Regions from separate parts of the Homo sapiens genome. Here region 1 is linked to region 2. Evidence: fine-mapped expression QTL. A gene starts in region 2. The other region holds a variant in brackets. All regions are shown on one strand. Distances are from middle to middle.

Evidence for each region. PIP is the estimated chance that this variant, and not a neighbour inherited with it, causes the effect. A credible set is the group of variants that fine-mapping cannot tell apart.
Region 1: its variant is the best candidate, but not a certain one, in a credible set for the expression of PLAC9 in stomach (GTEx, PIP 0.79).

The regions. Positions count from the first base shown.
Region 1 is chr10:79,983,731-79,988,124 of GRCh38, forward strand. No RefSeq gene overlaps it. Among named protein-coding and RNA genes, the nearest start is that of SFTPD, 37 kb to the left of the region's middle. The variant G/A (reference allele first, on the strand shown) is at 2,541.
Region 2 is chr10:80,130,562-80,134,955 of GRCh38, forward strand. It overlaps PLAC9 (placenta associated 9), which reads left to right and starts at 2,169. Exons shown (of 4, transcript NM_001012973.3): 1 at 2,169-2,265. The coding sequence starts at 2,202.

The sequences.
Region 1 (4,394 bases), 150 kb before region 2:
CATGCAGCCCCGGGAGCACGCAGCTCCACGCAGCCTCTCCGCATGCTCCCCAGCGCCTGCGGCCTCCTCTTAACAACTTTTGCCAGGACCATACATACCTGCCCGTGGGCTGAGTGGATTGGCAATGACAATGGTGACAGCTGACATTTACTGAGTACATGCTGTGTTCCAGATGCTACATCTCCATTTCTTAGATGAAGAATCTAAGTCTCAGGGCCTCATCCAAAACCATACAGCTAATAAGCAGTACAGTTAGGATCTAAGCCCAGGGAATTTTACTCTAGAACTGACAGTATTAATCACAGTGCTCTCTTGGCTTATATTTCTAAGGCATATGCTGTAACCACTATATATATATATGTATATGAGATGGGGTTTCACTCTGACACCCAGGCTGGAGTGCAGTGGCGCGATCTCGGCTCACTGCAACCTTCGCCTCCCAGATTCAAGGGATTCTCCTGCCTCAGCCTCCTGAGTAGCTGGGATTACAGGCACGTGCCACCATGCCCGTATAATTTTTTGTATTTTTAGTAGAGATAGGGTTTCGCCATGTTGCCCAGGCTGGTCTCAAACTCCTGACCTCAGGTGATCCACCCGCCTCGGCCTTCCAAAGTGCTGGGATTACAGGCGTGAGCCGCTGCTCCCTGCCTATAACCATTCTTTTTTAGGGAGGTGTGGTAGATGGTGCTACCCTGGATCTGTAGTCAGGATTTGAAGAAGGGAGAAGGTATTTGCTTGTGAAGAAGGCACCATGCATTGTGCTCAGTAGTGGTGACTGGAGAGAGAGCTGGGAGGGGCACAGGCAGCAAGGTCCCTGCTTAAAGGCAGTTATCTAGTTTGGAGAAACTTAGCTGGATAGTCAGTTCTAACATGCATTTGGCAAGCACTTATCATGCACTGTAAAGAGGCAATGTGTCTAGTTTGTTAGAGGGTGGGCTCTGGAGTCAGACTCCTGGCTTTGAACCCCAACTTCCCTGCCATTTTCAAATGACACTGGAGAAGTCACAAAACCTATTTCTGTCTCAGATTCCTCCCCAGTAAGAGTGGGATGTTAATAGTACCTCCTTTGGCTTGATATGAAAATTCAATAAGTTGATATATGCAGAACATCTTAGAACAGCGACTACCTTAGAGTAAATCTTCAGTAAGTATAAACTAATTATACTATGTTTTTGGCACTGAAGCCACGTCGCAGTGAGTAAGACAGTTCCTGACCTCAAGAATCTCAGAGTCTAGTACTGGAGACAGGTAAACAAATACTTGCAAAGTGTGTGGTGTGAGAGAGGTGTGACGGGTGGGCGGGAGCCTGCAGCAGGCACGTCTGACTCATCCTAGGTGTGTATAGGGCAGAGAAGTTAGTCTAGGCTTTCTAGGGGCACTGATGTCTGGGCCAAGTCTTGCAGGGCAGGGAGCTAGTCAGGGGGAGCTGTAGTGATCCAGCTGGGGACTGAGCAGGAGGTGAAAGTGAGCAGCTCGCATCTGTAGCGTTGCCAGATTTAGCAACGGAAAGTACAGGATGCCCTATTAAATGTGAATTTCAGATAAAATAATAACTTTTAAGAATAAGTATGTGTCATGCAATGTTTTTAGTATAAGTATGTCCCAAATATTGTATAACCACACAAATTATTTGTTATTTATCTGAAATTCAAATTTCACTGGGCATCCTATGAAAAGTCTGGCAATTTTATCTGTCCACATTTAGGAAGGTGCAGTGTGTTTCAGAGTAGCTGGAGTGATGCAAGGAGGAAAGGCAGAGTGGGCCGGATGGGGCTGAGAGGCATGCAGGAGGCAGTTCATAAAAGACCTATTCTATGTTAAGGGATTTGGATTTTATCCTGAAATTAATGATGAGCCCTTGGAGAGCTTTAGCCACAGGGATGTGAAACTGTAGCGATATCAGTGTCAGGCATGATGAAATGAGTGTTAGTTTCTATGGCTGAATAGCAAATTACTCCAAATTTAGAGTCTTAAAACAGTAAACATTTATTATCTCACAGTTTCTGTGTCTCAGGAATTCAGAGGCAACTTAGCTGGGTGGTTCTGGCTGAGGTTTCTCATGAGGTTGTAGACAAGATGATGACCAGAGTGGCAGTTATCTAAAGGATACACTGGAGCTGGAGAATTTGCTTCTAAGGTGACTCACTCTAATGGTTGGGAAGGCACTGCTGGCTGTCAGCAGGAGAGCTCAGTTCCTTGCCACAGGGACCCACCACAAGACAACTTGAGCCTCCTCACAACATGATAGCTGCCTTAGTGATCCGAGACAGCAAAGTGACCTTAACTTTGGAAGTCATATGCCACCTTGTCATTCCCATATATCCTAGTGCTAACACAGCTCAGCCCTGCTCAGTGCAGAAGGGTCCTACACAACGATGTACATACAAGGAGGTGGGGATCATGGGTCATCTTGGAGGCTGCTTATCTGGGATGGGAGGCTTACATGGTGATGCCTGTGACCTTGGAAGTGGAGGAGAATGATGGGCGTACAGAAGAGTGGAGAAAGGCTGGGAGGAATAGAGATGTGGCAGAGGAGGGGA[G/A]GCAAAGAAAAAAGAAAGGGGGAAGGGATGTTGGAGCAGATTGTAGTCTGTCTGCAGCAAAGAGCATCACCAAAGCCATTCTAAGGGAACTAGATCCACCTCCTTCTCTCCTGGGCATGCCCCAAAGATGGTTGTGGCCTCCAGAGAGGACCCCAAAAGAAAGCACAAAAACTAGACAGTGGGAGGGCAGTACCCAAAAGCCCTGAGTTTCTGAGCAAAATATTGAAAGTTTCTATGGTGAAATAGGAAGGTAACACGCTTAGGAAGAAAAAAGTGGTAATGATTCAAGGAAACATAATCACACACAGTTTCAGTCTTAATGGACAGGGGAGGACCCATAAAAGTAATCTATCATCTATCAATTATATCAACTGTCTATCTGTGATACCCTACCCTGTTTTAACCTGAGTGACTCTCTCTTAGCTGAGAGAGCCGGACAGACTCCATTTTAGCTTCTTCACTTGCAGCCCCCTTATCCCCCCTCCCTTAGGGGAATAACTAGTGCAAGCTGACTCCAAGCACATCCAGGAATGCACTTACTGATAAGATATTGAGGCAAGCTGTACCAGCAGCTGCTGGGGATGTGCTCAGTGGATGGTACCCAAGCCCCTGCATTTATCTCTTTGTGATAGTTTAAGCCCCTGCACCTGGAACTGTTTATATTTCTGTAACTATCTCTGTAACCATTAATTTTTTTAAACTTTTTGCCTGTTCTGCTTCCGTAAAAATTGCTTCAGCTAGGCTCCCCATCCCCTATTTAGATCACAGTATAAAAAGAAATCTAGCCCCTTCTTCAGGGCCGAGAGAATTTTGAGCTCTAGCCATCTCTCGGTTGCCGGCAGTAAAAGGACACCTGAATTAAAAAAAAGAAAAAAAGAAAAAGAAACTTATGGGATACCAAGCAGATTTAACCCAAATAAGACTACCTCAAGATATTTAATAATCAGATTTCCAAATGTCAAAGATGAAGAAAGGATCCTAAAAGCAGCAAGATATAAGAAAAAGATAACATATAAAGGCGCAACACATCTGGCAGTAGATTTCTCAGTGGAAACCTTACAGGCCAAGAGAGAGTGGCATTATATATGTAAAGTGCTGGAGGAAAAACTTGTATTCTACAATATTAAATCCAGTGAAAATATCCTTCAAACATGAAGGAGAAATACTTTCCCAGACAAATAAAATCTTAGGGATTTTATCAACACCAGACTTATCCTACAGGAAATGTTAAAGGGAGTTCTTCGATCTGAAAAAAGAAAGGATGTTAACAAGCAATAAGACATCTGGCTGGGCGCAGTGGCTCACGCCTATAATCACAGCCCTTTGGGAGGCTGAGGCGGGTGGATCACAAGGTCAGGAGTTCAAGGCCAGCCGGGTGAAAGTCCGTCTCTACTAAAACTACAAAAATTAGCCAGGTGTGGTGGCAGGCAACTGTAATCCCATCTACTCATGAGGCTGAGTCAGGAGAATCACTTGAACCCAGGAGGCAAAGGTTCCAGTGAGCTGAGATCATGCCACTGCATTACAGCTTGGGTGACAGAACAAGACTCCATCTCAAAAAAAAAGAAAAGAAAAAGAATCTGAAGATACAAAACTCACTGGTAACAATAAGTACATAGATAAATATAGAATATTATAACACTGTAATTGTAGTGTGTAAAATACTAATGCCTTGAGTAGGAATACTAAAAAATGAACCTATCAAAAATAATAAGTATAACAACTTTTTAAGACACAGCAAGTATAATAAGATATAAATAGAAACTAAAAAGTTAAAAAGTGGGAGAATGAAGTTAAAGGGTAGAGTTTTATTTGTTTTCTCTTTGCTTGTTTGTTGCTTGTTTTTGCAATAAG
Region 2 (4,394 bases):
CAAAATGTAAAAGGCCTTTGACGCAATGATTCCTCTTCCAGCCTTTCAGAAATATGTACATACAGGAATATGTACTACGTACATGAAGATATATGCAAAGGAATGTTTATTAAAGCTTATTTTATATTGGAGAGAAAAAGGAAGCAATCTACATGTCTGTCAATAGGGGACTGTTTGGATAAATAATGCTCCTTGTATCCATTCATGGGATATTTTAACTCTTAAAAGGAATGAAGTGGATTTATCTGTACCCACATAGACTGATCTCCAAGATTATTTTCTTTTATTTTAAGATGGAGTCTTGCTCTGTTGCCCAGGCTGGAGTGCAGTGGTGCAATCTTGGCTCACTGCCACTTCCGCCTCCTGGGTTCTGATTCTCCTGCCTCAGCCTCCTGAGTAGCTGGGACTACAGGCGCCCAACACCACGCCCTGCTAATTTTTTGTATTTTTAGCAGAGACGGAGTTTCACCACGTTGGCCAGGTTGGTCTCAAACTCCTGGCCTCAGGTGATCCACCCACCTCGGCCTACCAAAGTGCTGGGATTACAGGCGTGAGCCACTGCACCCAGCCAAGATTTAATGTTATGACTGAGATAAACATGAATGAAAGCAAATCTTCAAAATATCTATGACTTGATCTCATGTATATACATTTGTGTCTGAATATACATTAGGTAGATGGGGAATGCATAGACGTGGAACAGGCAGAGCCTACCAAGTTGAGGGGACTGGACCTGAATCATTGGACGGAGGGAATTCGTAACAGAAAAGACTTTCATGTTTTACTCTGTATACTTAATTACTTTATGCTCTACCGCAACAATAATGTATTGTATATGTTTTTGTGTGTGTGTGTGTTTTCTTAGTCTTAAATTCAAAATATAAGGTAGCCCACTGGCTCTAAGCTACAAGAATCCTTATGAGTTGGGCAGTTCTTTGACAACTTTTTTTCCCACCTGGCGAAACTATCAAGGAATGTCCTACCACCAAGCGTGAGAAATTTTTGGCATTCCTGAAATAAATTCTTCTTCTGAGCCAGCTCATGTGGGCATCATAATCTCCTTGAAGGCTTTTAAAAGATTTAGATCTGAGTCTGTCTCAGATTCTCGGGCTCAGAACCAGAATTTCTCCGTCTGAGGCTACTATCTTGCTCTGGAGGAGGGAGTGAGAACTGGATCACTGGTTAGCGTGGTAACTGTTTTGGACAATTGCATAGCCACAGCCAGGAACACAGAAGGCAGAGAGGCAGCCTTGATCTGCAAGAGCTCCAGGTAATCCCAACGGGGACCCTTGATGGACAAAGGCATTCTCCCAGGCTTGGTGATGAATGTGTTCCACTTACAGCCAGACGAGACACTCACTCAGGGCTCTGCAGCAGAGAAGTTAGAGCTACAGCTTTTTTGCTTTGTGTTTTTACTAAAACTTAATTTGTTGTTGCACTTGTTGGATGGGCATGTCCCATAGGGGAAGTTTCCACTACTGTGCTCTAAACTTTGGGCTGCTTGTACCATCTTACTTATCCCCTCATTAATAATGAATTGAATAAAATCTTTAGTATATGCTAATTTCATATCTTTGCGAGAGTTACGATTTTACCTTTTCTTTTTAAAATTACCTTTTCATATTTCTATCACTCCCTTACCAGAGCAGTGAGTTTCTGGGTCTCCCTCTTAGGGGCAGACACTGTTCCATGTAATTAGAATTAATTTCTTGTTCGTAGGTAGACAGAGAAAAGCTGCCAAACTCCCAGGAGACAGGGGTTCAGATCCTGTGCTATGGCTGAGAGTGATGCCGAGGAAGACACTTCCCTCCGAGTCTTAGTCTGCCCGCCTGTGAAACTGGCTCGTAACAAACCCCTGACCCCAGGCTCGGTCGCCTTGAGCCCAAGACCTCACCCAATGCCCCCCGCCCCGCCTTCCCTCCCGGGCTCCCAGGAGGTGCGGGGACTCGGGGGGCGGCCCCTTCCTCGGGAGGCGCCCAGGTGGCACGTCGGTGCCTCAGCTCCCGGGGTCTCTGGGCTCCGCGCTGCCCACGGGGTGCCGAGGGGCCTCTGGAGGGGGCGGGTTCTCTCGAGCCAGAAAGTCCGGAGCCGCCCAGGAATTTTGGCTCGAACTGAGTGCATTTCCTCTCGGGCCGGCCGGGTGCGATCCGGGAAGGGCGGCTGCGGGCAGACGCGGCGCTGCGCTCGGCCAGGCCGGCACCATGCGGCCCCTGCTCTGCGCGCTGACCGGACTGGCCCTGCTCCGCGCCGCGGGCTCTTTGGCCGGTGAGTGGGGCGCAGGGCGCGGCAGGGGACCTGGAGCCGGGGAGACCCGCAGATGGCGAGGAAGGAATGAGCGAGAGAGACGGAGAGAGAGCTGGACACAGCAGCGAGATGGACAGAGAGGCAGATGCAGGGAGGGAGGGATGGAGAGAAAGATTGAGAGGAAACAGACTCAGAAAAAGGCAGAGAAGTAGAGCAACGGAGAGATAAAGGAGATAGGGAAGAATACACAGTGAAAAGGAAAAAGGAGAGGCTGAGACAGAAAGAGGCTTCCCCTGAACAGATATGAACTAAGATAGAAAGAAAAAGGAGTTTGAGAGACAAAAGAGAAGAAGGAAAGAGAAAAAGTGATTAAAATGGCAAGGGGTGGAGGGAGAGAGGATATTGAAGAAAAGAGAAAGATTTGAGAGAGACCAAAAAGGAGAGAGAGGGAAGCTCGATGCCCGGAGTAGAGCTGGCAAGAGAGAAGGAGCCAGGATCTGGAGTGGGAGGTCACAGCTGCTGGGTGGGGCAGCCCCGGAGGCCAGCTCCATCTCAGAGGGCCTGTGGAGGCTCAGGCCTGGCTTTATAGGACATTGCATAAGAAGCCACACTCCAAAGGATGAGTGACCCAGGCTAGCCCAGCACAGCCTTAAGGAACCAGGCAGTCGGGCCCAGGAGAAAGGCCACCGATTCACCTGCCAGGTGGCCTCAGGTGGATCTGCAGTCAGTGAAGAAGTCAGCCTCCCGGTTTCCAGGGAGCTTCTCTGGGAAACTGAGCTATGTTGGGTGGAGATGGGGGACTGGGTGGAGGTGGAGAGCTGTGCGGAGGAGAGAGGCTGTCTGGGTACTCCATTAGCTGGGTTCCTTGCTTTTCACTGTCCGCTTTCTTCCCCTCACCTACCCCTCAGGCGGGCGGATCACAAGCTCAGGAGATCAAGACCAGCCTCGCTAACATGGTGAAATGCTGTCTCTATTAAAAATACAAAAAATTAATCGGGCGTGGTGGCACATGCCTGTAGTCCCAGCTACTCGGCAGGCTGAGGCAGGAGAATCACTTGAACCTGGGAGGCGGAGGTTGCAGTGAGCCGAGATCAAGCCACCGCAATCCAGCCTGGGTGACAGAGCAAGACTCAGTTTCAAAAAAAAAAAAAAAAGAAGAAGGAAAGGAGGAAAGTATTCATGTATTAGTGTAATTTCACACTGATTTCATATATTTTTGTGCATAATCTTTCAGATTTTAGATGATATATCTTAACTTTTGATTATGAAAACTTTTGGATACAAAAAAATACAAAGTAATAGTATGTGAAAGAATCATGTAATATACTTATCAACGCTGCTTCAAGAAGTATCAGTTCATGGGCAGTTTTATCTCATCTATAGCCTCCACCCTCTCTCCCCTCCCTGGATTATTTTAAAGGAAATCCAGGCATTGTATATTTTCTTTCTTTCTTTCTTTCTTTTTTTTTTTTTTTTGAGACAGGATTTCATTCTGTCACCCATGCTAGAATGCAGTGGCACAATCTCAGCTCACTGCAACCTCCGTCTCCCGGGTTCAACTGATTCTCCTGCCTCAGCCTCCTGAGTAGCTGGGACTACAGGCACGCACCACCACACCTGACTAATTTTGGTATTTTTAGTAGAGATAGGGTTTCACCATGTTGGCCAGGCTGGTCTCGAACTCCTGGGCTCAAGTGATCCACCTGCCTTGGCCTCCCAAAGTGCTGGGATTACAGGTGTGAGCCACAATGCCTGGCCTGGCATCATGTATTTTCATCTATAAATATTTCTTTGTGTACCTCTAAGAGATAAGCACTCTTAATAAACATAACTGCAATGCTATGATCATACTCCAAAAACTGTGTGTGATTGAATATCATTAAATATTCAATCACTGTTCAAATGTCCTTGATTGATTGTGTCATATCTTTTTGCAATTCATTTGTTTGATCCAAATAAGGTTACATACACTGCATTTGGTCAATATGTCTGTTAGATCTCTTTAAATATGTAAGTCTTCTCTCCCCTTTTTTTACTTAATTTTTTGTTTTTGTTGAAGAAACTAAGTTTGTCCTGTAAAGTTTTCCACATTTAGATTTTGCTAATTGCATCCCTTTTATGTCATTTAAATACCTCCACCCCTTATATTT